Regions from separate parts of the Homo sapiens genome. Here all the other regions are linked to region 1. The links come from fine-mapping of genetic effects on plasma protein levels. Region 1 holds a variant in brackets. A gene starts in each other region. All regions are shown on their reverse strands.

Region 1 (8,180 bases):
TGCTGAGGGATCTGATGTGCTCTTGGGTTACCAGGAAAGTATTCTTGTGGAACAATGCACTCAGACTGGACTGCAGAGGCCTCACTGTGAACTTTTTTCTGCAGAACAGTTAGGCATGGACCCTATGGGGGCCAGTGGGCAGGAGAGGCCAGTGGGCAGGAGGGCTTATGGAATACACGTGCTCTAGTCCCACAGGGAAACCAGCCCTGCTCTCTCTTAGCTCAGAGGTCAGCTAAGGCCAGTGCCTCCCGGAGGTGCATAGAGATCCCTGGAGCGTGGCCATCTATGGCTGCTCTCTGCTGGAGCTGCCCAGTGAACAAACGCTCCCAGGCTCCATGCTGTCTGAAGGCTTGTCTCTGCCTGCTCCCTAGGAAGATCCTCCAGACAATTCATAAGTCCATGGGGGATGTGGGGTCCCCTGTAGCAAGGATCCCAGAGGTTCATGACAAGTGTGAGTCATCCTTCATTCACTTCTTTCCCAGGAACCATTCAGGTTCAGGAGCTAGCTCTAGCATTCAGGTACCCTGCATGGGGTTCCCAGCTTCCTCCCTGTTCAGTCTCAGCTTCAGCATCACCTCTTCATTGAGTTCGGCATTTTCTTTCTGAAGACATTCCCGAATTATGGTGGTTTACTTGATAATTTGGTCTCTCTGAGTGGGAGCAGTGCCTCCTGGCTGCATCTAATCAGCCATCTTGTTCCCCCTTCCCCATGTCCTGCACTTTTAAAGATGTCTACAGTGATCAACATTATCCAATAAACTGACTGAGCAATAATGCAATATAAGTATTTTGTAAAAGTGGAGAAAAGTGTAGAATGCATTATACATTAACTTGAGTAATACAATAATATCAGGTTCAATTTGTAGAAAATTATTTTGGTCATATTTAATATGACCAAAGATAAGGGAAATAGCAGCAATGATGATACTTTATTATTTCTTAGTATAATAATATTTCAGACTTGTGGTTTGTTCTTTCCTCTCTTTTATATATATGGATATATAGATAGATACTGATATTTTATTTTGTGCTGCCAAAATAATCAGTCTGCTTAACTTATTTTTTCCCAATATTCTTACATTTTGCCTAACAGACTTGCACTTCTTTAAATTTGCATTTCCTTCTTATTCTTTTTTAGTCTTTCTCCAATTTGCTCTTCTATTTTTAACATATTTGATTTCTTTTTTAAATTCTAGAACTTATTTTTTTAAAAATCTGAATAAAATTCTCTTTGTCCTCTGCTATTTTCCCCTATTCAGTCTGTAAGAACTACTCATTTCCACCATATTAGAGCTTAACTACTCCAATGTCACTATTCTCAACCTGTTGTTTATAAAGCCAGTGAAAAATAGCAAATTCAAAACGTCTTTCCAGAACACACATCGGGACCAAGAATGTATGTCTTAAAGGGTATAGTACAAAAATTGTGACGTATAGGTATGAATAGAGTAAGTATCGAAGGTGATCAGCGATCAGAAGATTTTGTGTGTATGTGTTATGTATGAGTGTGTGTGTGTGTACATAAATGTGCATGTATGCCATTTTAATTTTAATTTAACAAGAAATCAACTAAAATTGGTGGGTGGAGGCTAGTTATTTATTCAAAGTGTATCAAGATAGAGATAAGTAAATAATATAGTGAAAGATAAAACATCTATCTATGTAGATGTAGGAATGCAAAGAAACAGTATGAAAACACAAATGGCGAATCAACTTCCTTAACTTCCTTAATGCTTATAGCCTACATCATTCTGCTTGTGTGTTTTAAATTTCATCATGGATTTAATGAAAGGTATAGAAGAAACTGCAAGGCAGGGTTAGAAAGCAGAGCACACTGGGGATTCAGAAACTATGAACTATGAACTATCTGAACCAAGTTAGGAGATTTGGTTGAAGAGATTTTATCTACAAGGGGAAGATTAAAGATGCTTAACGAATTTGAAATATGTGACCAAAGGCTCTTTGCCAGCTCTTCTCCAGCTTGCTCTAGACCAGACAAAGAACTTCATTTAAAGTACAGCATGAGAAATGATTCTGATGAAAGGATTTGTTAAATGCTGTTACAGAAGTCAAGTACAAGGTCCTCAAAGTCATTAATCATAGAATTTAGATTTACTCATTCATGGTTGTGTCTTAGTCCTCCTTGTAACTTAGATTTATTCCATTTTAGTGATTTTATGTGGTTTACTTTAGAAAAAAATGCCTTAATGATCCAACTGGACCAAAATAATATGATCATCTTTAAAAGCCATTAAAATGACATTCAAAATCTAAAAGTGAGTGAATCAGTGATCATGAGGACATTCAAATATTGCATCTCAGGCCTCATAAAATCCATTGATACCATATTTTTCTCTAAACCAGAAATATTTAGGCCAAAATGGTTCAAGCTATTTTGATCATTTATTTTTTTTATCTGGTCTGGGACCCTGGGCCTAATGTCTTACTGAGTAAAAATCAATTGCTAGTAATTATACTAGAATAAGTACACAATATTGGAAATCAGAAAACAACCTGATCCTTGAGCCAATCTTCAATACGTTTATGGTGCTGAGTCTTACTTTCCTTAGCTATAAAATAAGAGGATTGGACTAGATTCCTACAAGTGGTTGCTCCCATTTTAATTGCTTTAATCCTAGGAATCTACTATATTTAAAAATCCAAAAGAGCTGTATTAAAGGACAGTGTGACAATGTGAATATGGACGTTGTAGAGAGTTTCAGACAAGTCTTAAATGTTTACAATATAGCCATCCTGCTACATAAAAGTTTGTCTCCCAGAGGATATATCTAAATCATTCTTTGGCCTGCCTTAGCTCTGGGAGAGACTAAACAAGCATCATGCATGAATTGTGCATGCTTGTAAAGCACACAGAAATATGTTATTAGAAAGTAGTATTTAACCTAAATAGAAAATCAGTAAAGTAGCATTTTAAATTATCTTGTAGCCTGATGAAAATTCAATTAGAACATGACACCCAAACATTTAGGAAATGAAGAAGTTTTCTAAGTACTTTAAAAAAGGAAAGAGAGATTGACTCTTCATATTTTCAAGAAGTAATTGGGAGAGTTATGTGAACTGGAAGAGGCCTCAGATGTGAAATGAACTAGGCTTCATGTAAATGAAAGGTATAATGATGGCTAAAACACGTACAAATCAGATAGCACCTGCCTGAAGTACTTAGACCGGGGAAAGAAGGAGAAGAAAGAAGATAGTGTTCAAAATGTTTGCTTAGATATTGATTAGAAGGTGAAATGTCAACTGGGCTTTCTTGCTAGACTGGGTACCTAGCAAACGCGATCCCATGAAATAGGCAAAAAGAAGTAAAGAATATGCACATCAACTATTTTATGTGACATGGTCTCAAGTTAGCGATTGATATACTAAGAGTGTTTGCCTTTGAGATGTTTTTCCCCAGTAATAGTATCTAGATTGCTTGAAGAAATTACTTTAAGTGCTTTAAGAAACCACTTAAAATCTGATAAATTCACTAGATGAATAGAATAGAATGAAAGACCAATGAATTATGCTTTTAATGAATTTATTGCAACTTTGTTGTCATTTTCTACTTCACACTTCTTTTTACCACGTATATTTTATAGCAAAAACACACAATTTTTCCGTGTGGGTGAGAATTTGAGTTATAGCCACAATATTATTGTTGAAGTATGTTTTTCAAAGTGTTTACAATAAAATGACTCTGGTAGTATGTTACAATATTGTGAAAGAATAATAATAATGATCATTAAAAGCAAAGTAATGAACAAAACCAGAAGCCACAAAGAAACCTTTCCAAGAGAGCATTTCCAACATTTTATATAAGGATGAATATATTCTTATATTTCCTTATATGGAGAATAATATATATGACATGCTGGAAGAAGAATAAAATAACTTAAAAAAAGAGAGAACGAACCAAACACAGAATGTACTTATTTTTGTTACTGTTCAAATTATTATGATGGGAGTTGCACAATAATGTTTAACAAGCACAAGCTTCAGACTCCATCACATCTGAGTTCAAAGCCTAAGCCCTAGGAGCTTGGTCAAAAGCCTCAATCTTTGTGAGTCTGTTTGCTCATCTATAATATGTGGATGGCAGTTCTGAGCTTATAGAATTTTCATTATAATTAAGTGAAATCACAAAACCAAATCAGTTCCTCTTAAGTGAGAAAAAGTGGCAAACTTTGTTGTTACTATTTTAATATTTATTATGAATATTTATACTTACTACCTTTTTCAATATCTATAATTAGACAATAAAAATATTTCCATTTTAAGGCATTCAATAATAGCTCTGTTAGCTTATAAAATGCTTCCTTGAGTTTCTTTTGGTTTGGTAAACATTTTTTTAAAAACCTTCATTGAGATTGCTTGGTTTTCAATATGATAAAGTGTAGGTCTCTATTTTAAACATCTTTTCTGAGAAGATAAGTAGCTATGTGATTTGCAAAATGCACAGCTTGTAAGTCTTGTAACTTTAAAATATTTCCCTTCTACTCTCTGCCTGCAGCCCTTCATCTCTCCGTTTCTTGGTCACCAGTTGAGTACAAACTCTCTGGTTTTAAAATGTTATCTATGTAAATTCTTCTGCCACAGCTGGACAAGATGCATTCAAGAGTTTTTCTGTTTCCTGTGTGGTGAAGCAGCTTTCCCCTAACGACTATTTCCCATCAGTACCACAAAGACCTACCTTCTTAACCACTGTTTCAACGGTTTCTTACCACTTCCACCTTTCTGTAGAACATTTCATTTGGAAGGAGAGTCACAAATACTTGTTCACTGGGCTGTTCAGACTGATAAC[G/A]TCTCTTGGGACTTGAACATTGATGCACAATTCTCATCTGGAAAAAAAATTCAACTGTCAAACATTGGCAAAGAATACCAGAAATGAAAACAAACTCTTTTCTGTCTTAGTGTCACCATAAGATAATTTGTTTTGCTCTCTTAGAGAATAAAATTCTTTACCTTTTTTCTAAAAATCAAAGTAAAAACATTTCATTATTTGTCTATTTTGCTTACTTTAGCAAAAATTTTAATACATTTGGATTCTAAGCATGTGTTTTACTGATAAATGCATTAAATTGTTATTAGAAACTTTAGACCTAAGAATAGAAAATCAAATGAGATTGACAAACATGGTAACATAGGCTTAATTTTTTAATAAGGAATGAGAGAATTCTAGTACTTTATTCTAATACAATAAATAATGTCAAGACTTTTCTTTACATGTTCAAGATTTTTCATCTAAAAAAAGACCCATGTTAATTATTAACTGCAGAAACAAATTATAAGTATTATGTCTACATTTCTTATAAAGAAATAATATCTTAATATAGCCTTTAAAAATCATAATTATTTTACCTGCTCATTTGTAAAATACTAAATGTATTTGAATTATTTTTCATAAATTAAGGAATTATAAAAGTTTAACTGTCATTTGTATATTATATCTTGATCTTTTCATTCATTTTTATTTTCTGGATTTATGGTCTTTGTTCTTATGGTTTTCATTCTGTTATATGTTTCCAAGATATTTTCAAATAGAGTTTTAACTGAGTGATGCTAGATTAGAACATTTTCTAGTTCAAAATATTTGATGATTCAATAACATAAATTATGTTATGGCTCAAAATTACCCCTCCCCTCAATAAGCACACACTGATAAGCAATGACATGTGTGGAATAAAAATGACAAGAAAGTATGGCTCTGTCTCAACAAAAGGCAGAACTGACAGCTAATGTTTGTTATTGCTCTAAGCACCAGAAAGTGTGTACTAAAGAATACTAGGTTTTTAGACTGTGAATAGGTGTTCCACATACAACTACAGACATGCCAATATCTACTGGAATAAATTGGATAATTTCTTGCTGAAATAAAGTTAAGTTGGTATCTTTACACAGGTGTTCTCATAGACTTTGATGTGTTAACACTGTGAACATTCCAGAGAAGGATATGGCACAGATCTCTTGAAGCACCTCCTAAAACTATGAAAACACCCTTCGGCTCTATTAATATGTAAAACAAATATTGGCAAATTGTTGATTAAGAATCTGCTTATGCTGTTTTTCTGTACATTTAAGTAACCACAAATTGTGTTTTTTCTTTCACAATATGTCACTTCCTTTCCATTCTCAATGTCCCCACCCTAGTTTGGGCTTTTGCCTCTCTCTGCCCACCTCTAGTTTCTCTTCTTGTTCCATCCTATGAATTTAATCATATTAATCTTCTTAATGCAGCTCTAATAAGATCACAAATTTCTTTGAATATTTGCCACAGTTTCCTTTATGAAGAGCAAAAATCTTTCAAAATGTAATCTGATATGCAGGGGTATCTATAATGCAATCCCAACCAACTTTCTAACGTTTTTTTTTTTTCAAATGGCATTATTTCTTGACCCACCTGTTTGATGAATTGACCTGGTCACCAGTCATGTCAGAGATTTATTTTCTCTGATCTTTTGATCACATTAGTCCTTTGTCTGGAATATGCTCAACCAGCTTGTTCCTATTGAGATCCAGTGTAGTCCATTCCTTGGTTCAAATTGAAATGAAATTTCCAGCATGGAACTCTCAGATTCTTCCAACAGGACAAAGCCTTCCCCTCATCTGAAACTCCATAAAAGTTTCTTACAAAACTTTTGAGGTATATATCACATCTGTGTGTAGTTGCCTCAGTTGCCTGTCTAAACTGTGAAATGGTTTGGGATAGGAGATAGAACATCAGGGAGAGATTTCTGCTAGGAAGTCCATGGCTTTAGGCAGTGGTCAGTTATATATGAAGTGGGTGCAGGGGCATTCATCTGATGAGTTTATTATTCTGATAAAGTAAATGCTAAAACATTTCAGAATCACTTCTTTAAGAGAAGAGCTACAAGATACTCATATTACCTTCGGCAAAACAGCTTTTATTATTTTATCCTTTTTATACTTTATTGAATACACCAAATTTAGAGTGTGTTTTCCAAATATTTTATATGCCTTCATATTTGCTTTTATTCTTTGAACAGAAGATAGAAAAAAAATTCCTCTGTCCAAAAGAGTACATCTTCTTTTCCTCCTTTTACTAGTGCTATTGCAGTCCTTCAAGACCCTAAACCATGCTAGCCCCAGATAGGTATGTTAACCTTAAAGACAGCGCCTAGGAAATTCTTGAGTGCATCACATCTAAAAATCTCTATTTATGAACATTAGACATTATTGTGATTTTAAAATTTCCCTAAGGCAAAAAATAAACTAAAATATTCTAAGTAGAAAATAAATAAATACATATAAATAATTTTACATTAAAGCAATTAAGAAAATTTCTCCCTAAGACAGCTGTAATTTCAGGGCAACTGTAGAGCCCTACCAGGACTGAAAGATCATCTTACATCTAGGATAATCTGTTCATTAGAGTTGTGGAGGGGAACTCACAAACATGAATCAATATTTCTAATACATAATACTTTATGCTGTAGACCACATCTTTAAAAGAATTCTGTTCTCTTCCAAAGAGCAGTAGGGACATAGACCCCGAGTTATACTTGAGGAACCTTCAGCAAGAGCATTACGATAGATTCCCAACAACTAGAATCCTTTCTTGGAATGCATAATGGAAAGAAAATACCTGCTTTTAAACCTTCCTCTCAGCTTTTACCTTAGGTTCACAACAGACTTGATTTTAATGTAACTAATGTGTCCGTATCCAAGGTTCTTCTCCCATCCTTAATTCAAAGCAATTTTGATAAAAGTAAAGGTGAGTTAGCTATATGGATTTGAGCTCATGTAAGTGAAGGTAGCCTTCAGAGCTACAATTTACATGTGGTAAGGCTTTATTACTTCTGGGCTATCTACTCTCATGTAACTGACAGGTGGTAGGTTAATGTATATAGAACACACACGTATATATTTGATATACTTCCTGCTAATGTGCATGCAGATTATTTAGACATCTGGAATCAATTTAACAATTGTGTGAACTTTACGTAAATAGCCATTATCCGACTTAATGACTTTAGTGGTTGCAGTTGCCAGGGTTGTCAGTGGTCCTGGCATAGGAAATTTGAATTGAAGAAGATTACTTCCCTTTGGGCTCTTTCACTAGAAGATCAGTTTGAATCAAAGAGAAAAATACCTGCTCAAACTCATTATCAAAACTGGATAATGGTAAATGGCAGCCTGTGGGAAATCTAAAGACAATT
Region 2 (8,180 bases), not on the chromosome of region 1:
TTGGCAACTTTTTATAAATTTAAATATACACCTGCCGTATGACTCACCCACTTCACTCTTAAGTATTAGGTTGGTTGGTGCAAAAGTGATTGCAGTTTTTGCCATTTTTAAAACAGTAATGGCAAAAACTGCAATTACTTTTGCACCAATCTAATGTTTACCCAAGAGAAATGAAAACCTACACTTACATAAAACTTGTAGATAAATATTATTAGCAGCTTTATTCATAATTGTTCCAAACTGAAAACACTATTAGTATCTGTGGTCATCACTGAGTGTACCCTCCAGACATGTTTAGCAGACAGCCTCTAGCTATAATCTCCTTCTGCCTCAGCTGCAGAGAGTAACCTCTGTAGGGATCATGTCCTTCTCAGGGCGGAAGAGAAAAAAGGAAATCTGTTATACTTGTATTTTTTAGCTCTTAAGTCTCTGAATATGACTAGATGGAATATAAATGACCGTGTAACAGTTGCAAGTCATTTAAGACATTTTTTTTCCTTGCAAGCTAGCTCATGGAAATCTTATAATTTACTCAAAGTTAAACCTCACATAATTGATAGAGGCCAATGATTAAAGCCCTTACTGATATTTCTTGGTGTTCTCCACATTTGTTGGACAGTTCTGTTCTCTTATCTCTATTTATGCAGCTCAAATAATAGTAGGGACTGTCTTTTGGATACAAAGCAGAGACAAAATAAGTGTATTGCTGCTGGTTTTTGTTTTTTAAGACGGAGTCTCACTCTCTCACCCAGGCTGGAGTGCAATGGCACGATCTTGGCTCACTGCAACCTCTGACTCCCTGGTTCAAGCTATTCTCCTGCCTCAGCCTCCCAAGTAGCTGGGATTATAGGCACGCACCACCACACACAGCTAATTTTTGTATTTTCAGTAGAGACGGGGTTTCACCATGTTGGCCAGGATGGTCTTGATCTTCTGACCTCGTGATCCACCCGCCTTGGTCTCCCAAAGTGCTGGGATTACAGGCATGAGCCACCATGCCCGGTCATTGCTGCTGTTTAATAAGCGTTCATAGTGCCATATAATAAGCTTCTCCATGCAGACCCTGGGGAAAGCAGGTGTCTTTCAATCTCCATGTGTTCCTGGGCTCCTGGCCTCAAAGCTCCTGTGGCTGTGTAGGGACAAACCAACAGGCTTCAAAGATCTCAGGCCAGGCAGGCAGGTTGGCAGTATCCCCTATCCGTGTACTGAGCATATGGCTGCCTCCAGGGGAGCAGCGTAGGGTGCAAGTGCCATCCTTTACACAACAAATGACATATACTGGCTATAGGAAGGCACAGGATTGCATTTGCCTTTCTAGTAGTGGTGTAGTCTTAAACTAGACATTTAAAACAGTGACTCTGGCTGGGCACGGTGGCTCACGTCTGTAATCTTAACACTTCAGATGGCTAAGGCAGGAGGATCATTTGAGTCCAGGAGCTTGAAACCAGCCTGGGCAACATAGTGAGACTCCATTTCTACAAAAATATTTTAAAAAGTAGCTAGGCATGGTGGCACATGCTTGTAGTCCTATCTACTCAGGAGGCTGAGGTAGGAGGATCACTTGAGCCTAGGAGGTAGAGGCTGCAGTGAGCCACTTCCCTCGAGGCTGGGTGACAGAGCGAGATCCCATCTCAAAACAAACAAAAAATAAAACAGCGACTCTGAGACTTTTAAAAAAAGTTTAATATTTATTTTAAGTTCTGGGGTATATATGCAGGATGTGCAGATTTGTTATATAAGTAAACGTGTACCACGGTGGTTTGCTGCACCTATCAACCCATCACTTAGGTATTAAGCCCAGCATGCATTACCTATTTTTCCTAATGCTCTCCCTACCCACACCTCACGGACTTTCAGACTTTAACATGCAAGAGAAACAACTAAAGAGCTTGAAAAATGCGGGTTCCCTGGCTCCAGCCCCAGAGACTCTGAATTCCATAGATCTGGGCTGGAACCCAGGAATAAGCCCGCTAGAAATTTCTAATATTGATTATTTAGACTCATTGGCTACAGTTTTCTTGGCTAGACTAAAAGAACAGTAAAGTACCTTTGTGCTCCAAGAGTCTACGAACCAATGCTCTATTCTGCAGTACCTACACCAACTTCCTCAGCCCTTCCCCACTATCCGTTTACTCATGTGTCAGACTGTAAGCACAGGCTCAACATTCAAAGGGCATGGAAAAAAGTCTCCTTCTCTCCCCAGCACCCAGTCTCCCAGTTCTGCTCCCTGGTGGCATCTATTACAGGTTCTTACGTACTCTTCCAAAGATACTCTGTGCATTTACAAAAATAAGTACAGACATACATATATATTTTCTTCCCACAAATAACACACACAACGTTCTGCACCTAGCTTTTTATTTTTCTTTAGTTAGTATAGGTTGGAAATAGTTTTGTATTAGCAAATAAAGATCATTCTCCTTTTTAAAGGAAGCTGGATAGTAGAGGCAGGCGGATTGCCTAAGCTCAGGAGTTTGAGACCGGCCTGGGCAACATGGTGAAACCCCATCTCTACTAAAAATCAAAAAAAATTAGCGAGGCTGGTGGCGTGGGTCTGTAGTCTCAGCCACTTGGGAGGCTGAGGCACGAGAATCGCTTGAACCCGGGAGGCGGGAGGCGGGAGGCGGGAGGCAGGAGGCGGAGTTTGCAGTGAGCCGAGATCCTGCCACTGCATTCCAGACTGGGCGACAAAGCAAGACTCAAAATGTTTTGATTTTTGTTAATCTGGCTGGTGGAAGATGCTACCCCACATATTTGATTTGCAGTTAAGTGAGCCTGAATATCTTTTCGTGTGCCAGGATAGAATTGCATTTATTTTCCTCTGAATTACGTCTTCATATCTTTTGAGATAGTCTTTTCTTATTTACTTATAAAAGATGGAGTTGACGCTGGCATCAACACACACACACACACACACACACAGACACACAACACACAAGTCCCTGTACATAACTTTATTAACCCAGATATGGAATCTTGGCTTAGTTACGTGCTGTGTGACCTTGGGCAAGTTACTTAACCTCTCTAGGCCACAATGTCCAAGTACCTGGGACAGGGTCTGGCTTACCAACATGGTACAGGACGGCACTTTTAAAACCAGGGACTCGACTTGGACGTGCGAGTCAACAAGGTACAGGACACATTTCTCTCCGGGGAAATCTTGTGTGGGCGCCGAGGCCCGGACGTAGCAACCAAACGTCGGGAAGAGGCGCCAAAAGGATGCTGGGCCTGGCTCCTTGAAGCCCGGGTTTTCCCTTTTGAGAGCCACAACCAAGAAATAAAAATCTAGCAAAGAGGGGGCCACTTTCTGCGGCGAGATACGCCCTCTCGGCCGCTCCTCCAGCTCCCAGGCCCCCTCCCTACTCGACGGTGAGCAGCGCCGCGGCCCGTGCAGCCAGACGCGCGGGGTGCGGCGGGGCCCCGGGGGCCGGGGTGGGGGAGGCGGAGGGTGGGCCCGCGGTCACGTGAGTCGGGCCAGCTGCTGCGGGGGGCGGCGGGCCCCAGCGCCGGGAGTCTGGGTAGGGGGAAGCGCCCGGCGGCCGCCTCCGCCACTGCAGCTGCAGCCCCCGAGGTCGCCGCAGTAATCCGGACCCGGCAGCACCCGCACCCTCGGCGGCCGCAGCCTCAGCACCGCAGAGCGGAGAGCGGAGCCCGGAGCCCGCCGCCCCAGGTGAGCCGCGTCTGGGAGCGCAGGGCGTTTGCAGCGCTGCTTTCCCGGCGGTTTCACCCCACCCGCCATCGCCACCTCCTGCGTTTCATCTCCTCCCGCTGTCCCTCCGAACCCGCGGGTAGCGTTACCCCAGGCCGATTCCCGGTGCTGGCCCGGGCGGGCTGGGAGCCTGGGGGCGGTCAGAGGAGAGGTGGCCTCGGCCTGAAGCCGGGGTGACTCGGCTCGGGGACTGCGGGGGTGCAGTGGAGGGATGCCGGCCCCGGGCTCCCGCACCGCAGCCGGGTTCCCCGCGCTGCTCTTCCTGGGTTTCCTTTTCCTGGCAGCCAACCTGCTGCCCACTGGGATGTGCCTGTGGGCCCCTGGCCTCGCCACCCTGGGGTCTGGGGCGAGCCGGGCACCTTCCCCGAGGTGCCGTACCTGCTGCGCGGGCGGGCGCCGCGAACATGGCTGCCCGGAGACGCCCGCCGCCTTCGGCCCGGCTCTGCCAGCGCGTCCAACTCGCCCGCGGCCGCCGCACCGTGTCCCGGAGCAGCCCTCCCCGCTAGGCCGACGCGCGCGGGCCGCCCCTGGGTTCTCCGCGGGCCGCGCGTGGGACTTGACACAACTTCCCTCGAGCCGCACCCGGGCGTTCTCCGCGGGGCGCCGGGCGGGGCTGCCGAGAGGCCGGCTTGGTCGGCCTCTGCCTCCTCGGCTCGCTCTTGAGGCGTCGAGTATTTGGCGACCTCACTCGCGAGGGCCGAGAGAAATGTGGTCTGCAAAGCAGGAGGGGCGCTTGAACTTTAGAGAATTGGCGAGAACTCGGATTTGGGAATAAAAATGTCCATGAAAACATCGAAGGAAACTGTTACCTGCTTTGACTCAAAGCTGACCTTGTAGGGTTCTGTTAAATAACGTGGCTTTTCTGGATTTTCTGTCTGATTCTAGCATGCAAGTCCTTGACTTACGCTTGCGTCCGGCAGCCGGGTGGGGTGGGTGCGTGCGTGTGTGTGTGCGCGTGTGCGCGTGTTGTGTTCCCAGCCTGGTTAGAAGATGCATCAGTTGCGGAGGAAACCTATGCTAATTCAAAATGGCAGCATGAAAAATAGGCCAGGCGGAAGCAGCACAGACCACAACCATCAGCTGCCCCCTGACTTAAGCCTCAGGGAGGGAATTAGTGTGAGTCAAGGCTCATCCGGGTATGGAGTAGAGAGTGATTCTTGGAGCTGGCTAGATTTTAGGGTGCTGCAGGGTCCTGGGAGTTGTTAAGTGGGAAGTTTGGAGAGCTGTAATTATTTTTCCTAACTTATCAAAAGATGATACAAAACCTAGTTAAAACTCTACGGTTTTGTATGATTTTCTCCAGGCTCAACTAAAGTTGACTCTGTGGCTGCTGATGTCTTTTTGATGCACAACCTGGAGGTCGTTTGATACCTACAAGCTCTTAAAAGAGATGTGTGCACATTGTAAACATCATCCAAGAGCAGTGCACATAACAAATACCAGGTTCTTAGATCAAGTTTCATTGGAAGAACTGATTTAGCGACACGAGGAAGCACCCAGGCATGAGGAAATGGGAAATTCTTGAAAGGTGACTCATTTTAGAATTTTTTTTTTTTAAACAGCCTTTCTTTCCCTTTTCACTTCCGTGCTGCCAGCCATCTTGTCTTTTGGGAAGGAGATACATGAGGAGGCAAATGCTTCAGGGATAATGGAATAGAGGAGGATGAGCTAAGGTCGGGGGGCAGAGGTGGAGGCAGTCTTAAGGAGCCTGCTGTCAACCCCCTTTTTACAGCAGGAAGGCTGAGGCCAGCGGGGCGAATGGACGCCAAGATCATATATCTGGCTGTCAACTGGCAGTGAGAACCCAAATCCAGGTCTCATAACTCCCCCGGGTTCCACATGCTACCTTTTAGAGCCTGGGGGAGAACAGCAAGTCTGTCATTATTAGGAAGGCAAACACTTCGAGCAATGGGAAGCCAAACTGTAATATGAATTACAAAGTCTATAGGTGTTTAAAGTCAATGACAACACCTTAATTTCCTAATTCAAGACTTTTAACTTCTTAAGCTGTATCTACCTCATGTTCACATTTTCCAGTGGTGAAACTGTTTCTATAGTTAAGAACCAAAAACATTATTTTAGTAAAGTCTTTGAGGCAAGAAGTACATTTTTTGATTAAAAATTGAGTTGCTTGTGTTTGTGGAGAACCATTAGGCCAGTTTATTTTGAAAAGGAACCAAAGTAGGCCATGCATTTCATTTTTTTCGACTGTTTCTAATTTTAAGTAAAAGTAAATAACAAGCCTATTGTAAACATAACTTTGAAGCAGTGAAGACAGGCTTTTCCTATGATTTGCATTTGACTTTTCTGAGTCATGAGTCAGTGACCTTAGATCTACTAAAGCAGAGCTAGAAATTGTGCATGGGTTAGTGTGAAGAGGTGGTGAAGATGTGGAAAACGTTTCTTCTGGGCATCTGAACCTTCACAGCCAGTGATGTGCAGAGGGAGAAGGTGGCAGGAGGCAGGGAACAGGGAGAATGTCTTGAGGCAGTGGAACAGATAGGAGCTAAATATGAATATATATATCGAAGTGAAGACAGATGCTGATGTGACATGTGCCATTTAGAAAACTAACTTGCAGCCGGGCGCGGTGGCTCACGCCTGTAATCCCAGCACTTTGGGAGGCCGAGGCGGGCGGATCACGAGGTCAGGAGATCGAGACCATCCTGGCTAACACGGTGAAACCCCGTCTCTACTAAAAATACAAAAAATTAGCCGGGCATGGTGGCACGCGCCTGTAGTCCCAGCTACTTGGGAGGCTGAGGCAGGAGAATCGCTTGAACCCGGGAGGCGGAGGTTGCAGTGAGGCGAGATGGTGCCACTGCACTCCAGCCTGGGCGACAGAGCGAGACTCCGTCTCAAAAAAAAAAAAAAAAAAAAAAAAATTAAAAAAATTAGAAAACTAACTTGCATTAGAGGATGAATGTGAAGATATGCCAAAGATATTTAAAATAGCAAGTTGTAAAAATACAGAAATGCATGCAATTTGTGTCTGTTGAAGAATAAGAATACAGATAAACAAAAGTTATTTTTTTTTAAATCCGTTTTCATTAGAGTCTAGATCTGTGCTGTTTCATCTGGTAGCCACCAGCCTCATGTGGCTATTGAGCACTTGAAATGCAGCTAGTTTGTATTGAGATATGCTGAGTGTAAAATATACACACAATTTCAAAAATTTAATATGAAGAAAGAATTTAAAATATCATTAATAATTTTATATTGATTTTATATTGAAGTAACATGTTGGATATATTGGGTAAAATATATTACTAAAAATAATTCCATGAGTTTCTCTTTACTTTTAAAAATGTGGCTACTAGAAAATATAAAATTGCAAATATGGTTCGCATCTGTCTTGCTCTCTCTCGAGACAGGGCCTCCCTCCGTCACCCAGGCTAGAGTGCAGTGGCACGATCTCGGCTCACTGCAACCTCTGCCTCCAGGGTTCAAGCGATTCTCCTGCCTCAACCTCCTGAGTAGCTGGGATTACAGGCGTGCGCCACCACAGCCCGGCTAACTTTTGTATTTTTAGTAGAGACAGGGTTTCACCATATTGGTCGGGCTGGTCTCGAACTCCTGACCTCAGGTGATCTGCCCGCCTCGGCCTCCCAAAGTGCTGGGATTACAGGCATGAGCCACCTCGCCCAGCCCTTGGATTATATTTCTAGTGGTTTTTAACAGGAACTGGAGGGTGGCTGAGCTCATAATGCTGTTTGTAGAACTGGGTATGTAAGGAGAAGTTAAAACAGAAACTGAAAAGGGGACAGGATGGACGGAAAAGGGACTACAAGAAGTGAGTGACCAGGGAAACTGTAAAGGGAGAGAAGGAGTATGTGGTGGGCTGGGACTGCTGAGTATGAGACTATGAAGCAGAATAAGCACACTACGTGGTGATCTAGGACATGGGGACAGTGGAGTGTCAGGGTCTATGGTGGTGGGACTTCAGCTAGGATGGAGAAATAGCATGGCTAACATAACTGCACAGTGCATTGGAAAGTAACTTCCTCATTCTGACACATCTGTGTTCCCATATCGAAATGAGATGAATACACCCCAGTACAGTGAGAGGGCCCTGGGCTGCAAGTTAGGGGACCTGGGACCTAGCTCTGGTCCCACCTCTAATTAGGAGTTTGGCCTTGAGCACACCACTTATCAGTCTCCTTCCTTTTATTTTTATTTTTATTTATTTATTTTTTGAGACAGAGTCTCACTCTGTCACCCAGGCTGGAGTGTAGTGGCGTGATCTCAGCTCACTGCAACCTCTGTCCCCCCAGGTTCAAGTGATTTCTCCTGCTTTAGTCTCCTGAGTAGCTGGGATTACAGGTGCGCACCACCATGCCTGGCTAATTTTTGTATTTTTTAGTAGAGACGGGGTTTCACCATGTTGGTCAGGCTCGTCTCAAACTCCTGACCTCATGATCCGCCTGCCTCAGTCTCCCAAGTGCTGGGATTACAGGTGTGAGCCACCGCG
Region 3 (8,180 bases), not on the chromosome of region 1:
GCAAAGGCCAAGCGCCGGCCAAAGGCACACCGCTGGACGCGTTTCCTTCCTTCTGGAGAGATGACCAGGAATGCAGGATCCAAAGGGGGTCTTGGAGGGAGGGCGGGAAGGGCATCTCCGGATCTGGGCAGACCCAGGGCTGCCGGCTCCCCGAGGAGAATACGGGCTGGGGGCGAGGAGCCGGAGGGCAGGTCAGGCAGTGCATCAACCCTTGGCTCCTCCACCGCAGCCCCAGCCCGCAGGCTATCGCTCAGGCTTCTCTCTCCGGGTTATGTAACCCCGGGACGGGACGTGGCAGCCGGGTGAGTGAGCGAAGGAGTAGGGGAGGGAAGGGAAAGGAGAGGAGGGGCAGGGCCGGGCTTGGTGATGGTGGTGGTGGGAAGCGCCGCCGTGCCGCCTCTTCTTGGGCCCCTTGGGTTGTCTTTCTGGAGGATTCCGGGACCAGCCCTCTCCCCAGGCTCCGGGTCGCCCCCTAGCCCCCCGCCGCCTCATTTTCCCTTCACTCTTTTCCCCCTTCTGTCCCACCCGCCCTGCCAGGGGGCCTCTGGCTCTGGATAGCTTTTCCTCTCCGGTTGTAGTTTCCTTCCCAAAGTTCTCAGCTTTGCTACCTCGCCCAAGTCATTAGCCGCTCTGAGCCTCAGTTTATCAGTTTGTAAAATGAAGTTTGATTGAGCGGCCACGTGTAAAACTCCTGGCATAGTGCATGGTACAAAGTAGATGTCTGCTGCAGGCTAAGGGCCTCGAGGGGCTAAGTGAAATGTTGTGTGCCAGGCTGGGTGTCAGAGCCCCGGGAGCCGCAGCCACGAATGGTTGGCTCCCGGGTGGTAAAAGAATTTATCAACAACAGTATAGGTTTGAAAAGTTTTATTAGATGGAAAGAACTCCACAGCAGAGCGCAGCGGGATGCTTCGGCAAGAGAGGCCTGAGCTCACTTGCAGGGAACTGAAGGGTAATTTTGACCACATTAGTTTTGTAGGTCATAGTAAATGATTACATTTGTAGACATTTTGGCACCTTGATGACAGCAAAGGTTGCACAATGGGTTCCAACATGCGTGCATTCCGGAGATGTATAGAAATTCTAGGGAAAGAAGCCTGGTACCAGATGTGGCTTTAGATAATAGGAAAGTACCATTCTGAGTTCTTCAGATAAGGTGCTTTGCCTCCTGATGGTCTGCTTGATGGCCACCAGGTGATCCTTGCTCTCCTCATTTTCCCCCTGATAAATATTTTGGGCAAATCTTTGACCCTTTGTATTTCTCCATGCTCATGTCTACTTGTCTGTTAGGATCCCAAGAAAGGGAAAATGGCACAGTGAAGAGGGGTGTCCAGTCTATCTGGCTACTTCCTGCTGAAAAGGGGCATTGAAAGGATTCCTTTCTTGCTTTCTGTCATGAAGGGAATGAAGGGTCATGATAAACTTGTTCATGGAGGGAAGACCAGATTCCATCAAGAGGCCCCATGAAAATAGAAGTTGCTGTTGCAGGCTGGTATTGGGATTGCATAGTCATCTGTAGGTGGAATCATTGTAAGCTGGAAGATATAAGCATTAAAAGGCAGGAATTACCGGCATGCACCTCCATGCCCACAGATTTTTGTGTTTTTAGTAGAGACAGGTTCTCACCATGTTGGCCAGGCTGGTCTCCAACTCCTGACCTCAGGTGATCCGCCCGCCTCGCCTTGGTCTCCCAAAGTACTAGGATTACAGGTGTGAGCAACCACACCTGGCCCCTGGGGTCTCAATTTGTGTATTTATGCATGGCCTCCACCAGTCTAGCTTGGAAAAGGGCAGGGCTTTCAGATAGTTTCATACATACAAAATTATTATTTCTTTTTATTTTATTTTATTTGAGATGGAATTTCGCTCTTGTTGCCCAGGCTGGAGTGCAGTGGCGCAATCTCAGCTCACCACAACTTCCGCCTCCAAGGTTCAAACGATTCTCCTGCCTCAGCCTCTGGAGTAACTGGGATTACAGGCATGCACCACCATGCCCAGCTCATTTTGTATTTTTAGTAGAGATGGGGTTTCTCCGTGTTGGCTAGGCTGGTCTCAAACCTCAGGTGACCCGCTCGCCTCAGCCTCCCAAAGTGCTGGGATTACAGGTGTGAGCCACCGCGCCCAGCTATTATTTCTTATAATTTAGAAAAATTAACAGGTTTTATTATATATTTTTCATTCCCTCCAACAGAGAAGTTACCATATGATCCTGTCTGCCCTTACCTCTGTTTGGGCCAGAATTGGTGGCCTGGTATTGCCAATAGGTTCTATGTTGGGGACAGCTTCTGCCCAGCTCTGTTATTAGGACTGGGAGCATGAGCTTCATCTGCCCATGCTGAAGATCACACGTGTGATTTTTTGTGTGTGGGAACAGCAGGTAGTTAATACCACAAATACATCTTGCCAGGTTAAATCAAAGGCAACAGTTAAAGTCTGAAATTCTTGAATGAACTTAGAGGGATCCTGACTAAATGAACCCAACTTGGATTGAATTTGCAAAAGATCAGACATGATCAGAAAAGGGACATGAACTTGGCTTGTTCCCAAATCTTCATTAGCCACCTTAGGGAGAGGCAAAATATTTTGGGGATTTTTCTGAGGACTCTGTACTAGTAGCATATGTGACTCCCCTGAGAGTATGTGAAGGGGAGAAAGTATTTGGGTATGTGGGTGGGAGATTGACTAGGGAATGGAGCAGATGGAGAGGGTGTAGGTGAAGAGTGAGCAGGTTGAGGAGGATGTAATAGGCAAAAGGAAGGATCATCTAAGACATCAGAACCGGGAAGGGAGGACGTTCCTTGGAAGCATACATGACAATTTGTATGTAATTTTGGGTTTGGATTTGGGGATAAAGCAAAAAAGACCTGAACATATGGGACTTCTGAATCCTTTCCAAGGTTCCGGCAAAAAATCAGTTAAGTTGTAAAGTAGCATTGCAATCCCAAGTTTCATTAATTGGCCAAATTGATTGATTAGGGAGCTTGTATTGAACCCAAGCAATATTAGAAAAAAGGATATGCTTTTTAAACTCTTATTTATTTTTTATTTGTATTTTTTGAGACAGAGTCTTGCTGTGTCGCCCAGGCTGGAGTGCTGTGGCGCCATCTTGGCCCACTGCAACCTCCGCCCCCGGGGTACAAGTGATTCTCCTGCCTCAGCCTCCCTAGTAGCTGGGATTATATGTGCCCGCCACATATAATTAGCCCCCTGGCTGATTTTTTTTTTTTTTTTGTATTTTTAGTAGAGACAGGGTTTCGCCATGTTGGCCAGGCTGATCTCGAACTCCTGACCTCAGGTGATCCACTCGCCTCGGCCTCCCAAAGTGCTAGGATTACAGGTGTGAGTCACTGTGCCCGGCCAAGTTTTGCATTTTTAGTAGACTCCCGGTCTTTAACTCCGGACCTCAGGTGATCTGCCTGCCTTGGCCTCCCAAAGTGCTGGGGTTACAGGCATAAGCCATTGTGCTCAGCCTTATATGCTTATTTTTAAGAGTTTGTGGGTCAAAATGAGACCAATGGGACCATTTTTAAGGAGGCAATCCAAGGGCGAGTTGGATGGAACTGAATTAATTGAACCGAAGTTGGGTTTAGACAAGGAACTACAAGATCCCTGAGGCATCCCTGTGTAGAATTGAGATCCACCGCTTCCAGGACAAGGCTTATGGAGTGTTAAAATGAAAGTGCCCTGCCACTCTGACAGGCAATAGCTCTTTTGTCTTGGCCTTGGGGTAATACCGGGGGATGGCGCTTGGCCAGAAACTGTCAGTTGCCAACGAGAACTCAAGCTGGTTCACTGGCAGTCCGAAAACAGAAAAGAGCCCTGGCCAGTCCCTCACCCCTAAGGGCAAGGACAGCCAGGTATCCCTTCTCTAGGGCTTCAGGATCCCACAGAAGAGCTGCCTCCACCGGGACCGGCAGTTCCCCAAAGAGTAAAGAACCAGACCGTGGAAGGAAGCAGAGAGAAAAAGGAAGAGGGAAATCCCAGTGAAGTCCCCGTATGGGCCACCAAGATGCCAGGCGAGGTGTCAGAGCTCCGGAACCGGGAAGTGGTTGGCTCCCGGGTGGTAAAAGAACTTATCAACAACCGTGTAGGTCTGAAAAGGAAAGTTTTATTAGACGGAAAGGACGAGGCAGCAGAGCGCAGTAGGCGCTTCAGCAAGAGAGGACTGAGCTCCCTGCGGGGAACTGCAGGGTAATTTGGACCACATTAGTCACTTAGGTCATGGTAAATGGTTACATTTGTCGATATTTTGGTGCCTTGATGTCAGCAAAGTTTGCACAATGGGTCTTAACGTGCACTCATTCCGGAAACGTACAGAAATTCTAGTTACTTATAAATTCTTGGGACGGAAGCTTGGTACCAGATGTGGCTTTAGACAATAGGGAAGTGTCATTCTGAATTGCTCAGATAAGGGGCTTTGCCTCCTGTTGGTCGACTTGATGGCCACCAGGTGATCTCTGGTCTCTTCAGTGTGGCTTTGCAGACTATAAAGGCGCAGCGCGCCAACGAGGCGGGTTGGCCCCAGACGGCGGAGAGGAAGGGCAGAGTCGGCGGTCCTGAGACTTGGGGCGGCCCCTTGGAGGTCAGCCCCGCTCGCTCCTCCCGGCCCTCTCCTCCTCTCCGAGGTCCGAGGCGGGCAGCGGGCTGTGGGCGGGCAGGAGGCTGCGGAGGGGCGGGGGGCAGGAAGGGGCGGGGGGCTCGGCGCACTCGGCAGGAAGAGACCGACCCGCCACCCGCCGTAGCCCGCGCGCCCCTGGCACTCAATCCCCGCCATGTGGGGGCTCCTGCTCGCCCTGGCCGCCTTCGCGCCGGCCGTCGGCCCGGCTCTGGGGGCGCCCAGGAACTCGGTGCTGGGCCTCGCGCAGCCCGGGACCACCAAGGTCCCAGGCTCGACCCCGGCCCTGCATAGCAGCCCGGCACAGCCGCCGGCGGAGACAGCTAACGGTGAGTTCCCCGACCGACGGTCCGCTCCCCCGCAAGCCGACTGCCCGGCTCTCCTGCCCCGTGGGGCGATCCCTCCCTAACACGCGGGCACACGCACACCCACGCACACTCACAGTCATGCACACTCACCCCGCACGCACACTCGCACTCACGCGCACACACGCGCGCGCACTCACACACATTCACACACGCGCACACTTGCACTCACACGCGCGCGCATTCACACGCATGCACACACACGCACACTCACACGCGCGTGCGCGCACACACAGTGCACGCGCGCGCACACTCACACTCACAGTGCACACACACATATACACACTCACACTCCCTCAACTCCCTGCTGGGAGCAATGGCTGCTGACTCGGCAGCCCCAGTTCCCTGCCAGACCTAGTCAGCAGTCCCAGGACAGGCGCCAGTGGGATGCTGCCTCTTCCAAGCCCCAAACCTTCCCTTTTCACCAAAGACAAAACAGGCCAGAACTGGCAGGAGGGGAGACAGAGGGGCAGAAGCTCTCAAGGTGCAGAGCAAGACTGCGTAGGAGAGAGTTTGAAGGCGAGGGCTGGAGAGAAAGAACAAAAGGAAAGAAGGGAGAGCCCCTCGCTGAGGCTGCCGGGAGGATGGGGCAGAGCGGGAGAGGAAGGCAGCCCGACCTCCCAGCTTTCCAGATGTGGAATAGGAGAGGAGGAGCGCAAGCGGAGGGCACTCAGGGGCTTCTAGAGGAGGCAAGTGGAGGAGGGTCTTGAAGGGTGATGTCCCCGAGTCAGGGGAGTCTGGAGAGAGAGAGAGAGAGAGGGCTGCCAAGAAGGAAGCGGCGGGCAAAGGCACAGGGGCACCAGATGCGGAAATGGGCAGCCTGTTCTGGAGGCAGCTGTGGAGCTTCGATGGGTACCCCCAGCACCTGCCTGGGCAGAGCCTTGTGCTGAAGGGCCGGCGGGCAGGCCCAGCCCTGAAAGCCTCGACACCCAGGCAGACATGGATTCCAGGACAGGCCATCTGAGCCCAGAGAGCAGACACAACAATGGAAGCGGCACAGGGGTTTTGGGGCATGATGCTGAGTCTGGAGCTAAGAAAGCCTCCTTGGAAAGGCATCTGGGCTGAGATGCAAAGGAAGAATGGGAATTAGGTGAAAAAATCAGAGGCGAGGGGTAGCATTACAGGGGAGGGGATAGCTAGTGCAGAGGCCCGGAGGTAAAGTGCCAGACTCAGCTCTTTGGAGCAACCGAACAGTTTCTAGAGGCTGGGTGCAGCTCTCCATTGGATTAGAGGTTCACAGGGGAGGCTGGCCAAGCATGTAGTTACATCAGGGAGGAGAAGGAGGAGCCAAGGAAGTGACTGGAGAGGCAGGTTGGGGTCAGATTGCAGGCCTTTGATGTCCTGTGAAGGCTGTTAGATCCTGGTGGTGTGGCCTGCTGTGGGCTCACATGTCTTCTTGGGCTGGCAGACCTTTCCATCCGGGGTTTCACCATTCTTCCTTTCCCCCATGCTGTGCCTCTCGGACCCCAAGGGACCTCAGAACAGCATGTCCGGATTCGAGTCATCAAGAAGAAAAAGGTCATTATGAAGAAGCGGAAGAAGCTAACTCTAACTCGCCCCACCCCACTGGTGACTGCCGGGCCCCTTGTGACCCCCACTCCAGCAGGGACCCTCGACCCCGCTGAGAAACAAGAAACAGGTACTTCCTCTCCAGGGGCCCAGCCCAGACTTGCAGCCCCTGGGGCACTTTACCAGCACAGCTCTTGGCCTCATGGGCACCGGCACGCCCCTTGCTTGCCTAGCGCAGGAGCAACCTTAGGCTCAGCTTCCCACCTGCCCTGGCTACCCTCCCTCTGGTCCTGTCTCACTGTTCTATCCCCGCCCCAGGCTGTCCTCCTTTGGGTCTGGAGTCCCTGCGAGTTTCAGATAGCCGGCTTGAGGCATCCAGCAGCCAGTCCTTTGGTCTTGGACCACACCGAGGACGGCTCAACATTCAGGTCAGTAATCCTGGCTCGGAGCCATGGTCTCAGGGTAGGGAAGGCAGCCCCTGGGAGCTTCTCTCCTGCCTCCTCTCTGTCCTGGCCTGCCCCACTCTGTCCAACTGGGCCTGACCACCATGTCCTGTGTCTGCAGTCAGGCCTGGAGGACGGCGATCTATATGATGGAGCCTGGTGTGCTGAGGAGCAGGACGCCGATCCATGGTTTCAGGTGGACGCTGGGCACCCCACCCGCTTCTCGGGTGTTATCACACAGGGCAGGAACTCTGTCTGGAGGTGAGGCAGACTAACCCTAGGTCAGGAGGTCACAGAAGGACTGGGGTGGGAGTCCTGGGGGCACCGATGATCTCTCTCCACCTCTCCTGCCAGGTATGACTGGGTCACATCATACAAGGTCCAGTTCAGCAATGACAGTCGGACCTGGTGGGGAAGTAGGAACCACAGCAGTGGGATGGACGCAGTGAGTGGTCCCACTGTGGCTGGGGCCTCCATGCTGGGAGTTGGGCACCCAGTCCAGGCTAGGCTGAGGCTCCTCTGAGGACAAGGAATAGACGCCAGCTTAGGCTTCCCAGGGGGGTGTGGCTTGTTGTCAAGAGGGTGGCACACGGCAGGCACCATTGGGAGCCAGCTGCTTTGGGACATGCCCACATCCTCCCCAGATAATGCCACCACAGGGTGGGTGCTGCTTCACGGTACAGCTTCCTCCTGGCGTGCCCCTTCTGGCCCGGGGCCTCTGGTCCACATCACTTCTTGCCTTCTCGTGGTTCTGACTTCCGCATCTCATGGACCTCTTTTTACAGCAGGCTACAATGTGGAGTCCTGGCCAGCTCTAGGATTGGCTTCCCCCGAGTCATGTGGCCAAACTGGTCTAATGAACTGTGTCCAATCCAGAGAGCAAGGCTGCCTAGGGCTGCCCATTGGCAGGGGCTGTGGGCCGGGGTCTGTGTTTGATGCACAGTGCAAGTCTCTAGCTGAGCCCACTAGGGTGGGGAGACAGTAAGCTTGGAGGCCTGAGCTCCTTCCCTGGGTCCTGGGCCAGGCTTCTGGGGTTTGAGCAGCCACAACAGAGAACTTGCTGCCCCCAGGTATTTCCTGCCAATTCAGACCCAGAAACTCCAGTGCTGAACCTCCTGCCGGAGCCCCAGGTGGCCCGCTTCATTCGCCTGCTGCCCCAGACCTGGCTCCAGGGAGGCGCGCCTTGCCTCCGGGCAGAGATCCTGGCCTGCCCAGTCTCAGGTGGGCAGTCAGGCCAGGGTTGGTTGGGCA

Alleles and levels. Alleles are on the strand shown, and positions count from the first base shown. The strength of an association depends on the size of the effect and on how common the allele is.
For the plasma level of the protein whose gene starts at base 3,511 in region 2, A is the high allele of the variant in region 1 and G is the other (moderate association).
For the plasma level of the protein whose gene starts at base 4,715 in region 3, allele A in region 1 goes with a lower level than allele G (weak association).

Evidence for each region. A credible set is the group of variants that fine-mapping cannot tell apart. PIP is the posterior inclusion probability: the model's chance that the variant is causal. Protein levels are from antibody-based Olink assays in UK Biobank. Linkage for the fine-mapping came from a reference panel and not from the study's own genotypes, which makes the PIPs less certain.
Region 2: SCRN1 starts here. The variant in region 1 is the best candidate, but not a certain one, in a credible set for the plasma level of the SCRN1 protein (UK Biobank, PIP 0.65).
Region 3: CPXM1 starts here. The variant in region 1 is the best candidate, but not a certain one, in a credible set for the plasma level of the CPXM1 protein (UK Biobank, PIP 0.76).

The regions. Positions count from the first base shown.
Region 1 is chr1:199,038,217-199,046,396 of GRCh38, reverse strand. It overlaps LINC01221 (long intergenic non-protein coding RNA 1221), which reads right to left. Exons shown (of 3, transcript NR_126351.1): 2 at 4,725-4,841. Among named protein-coding and RNA genes, the nearest start is that of LINC01222, 23 kb to the right of the region's middle. The variant G/A (reference allele first, on the strand shown) is at 4,805.
Region 2 is chr7:29,985,132-29,993,311 of GRCh38, reverse strand. SCRN1 (secernin 1) reads left to right here and starts at 3,511. Exons shown (of 8, transcript NM_014766.5): 1 at 3,511-3,670. It overlaps FKBP14-AS1 (FKBP14 antisense RNA 1), which reads right to left and starts at 4,656. Exons shown (of 3, transcript NR_187577.1): 1 at 4,519-4,656. RefSeq lists silencers at 3,385-3,724, 3,745-3,794, 3,805-4,074, 4,165-4,284.
Region 3 is chr20:2,797,162-2,805,341 of GRCh38, reverse strand. It overlaps CPXM1 (carboxypeptidase X, M14 family member 1), which reads left to right and starts at 4,715. Exons shown (of 14, transcript NM_019609.5): 1 at 4,715-4,941; 2 at 6,449-6,616; 3 at 6,805-6,914; 4 at 7,051-7,190; 5 at 7,284-7,374; 6 at 8,000-8,150. The coding sequence starts at 4,770. RefSeq lists enhancers at 4,172-5,157, 5,158-6,145, 6,146-7,133.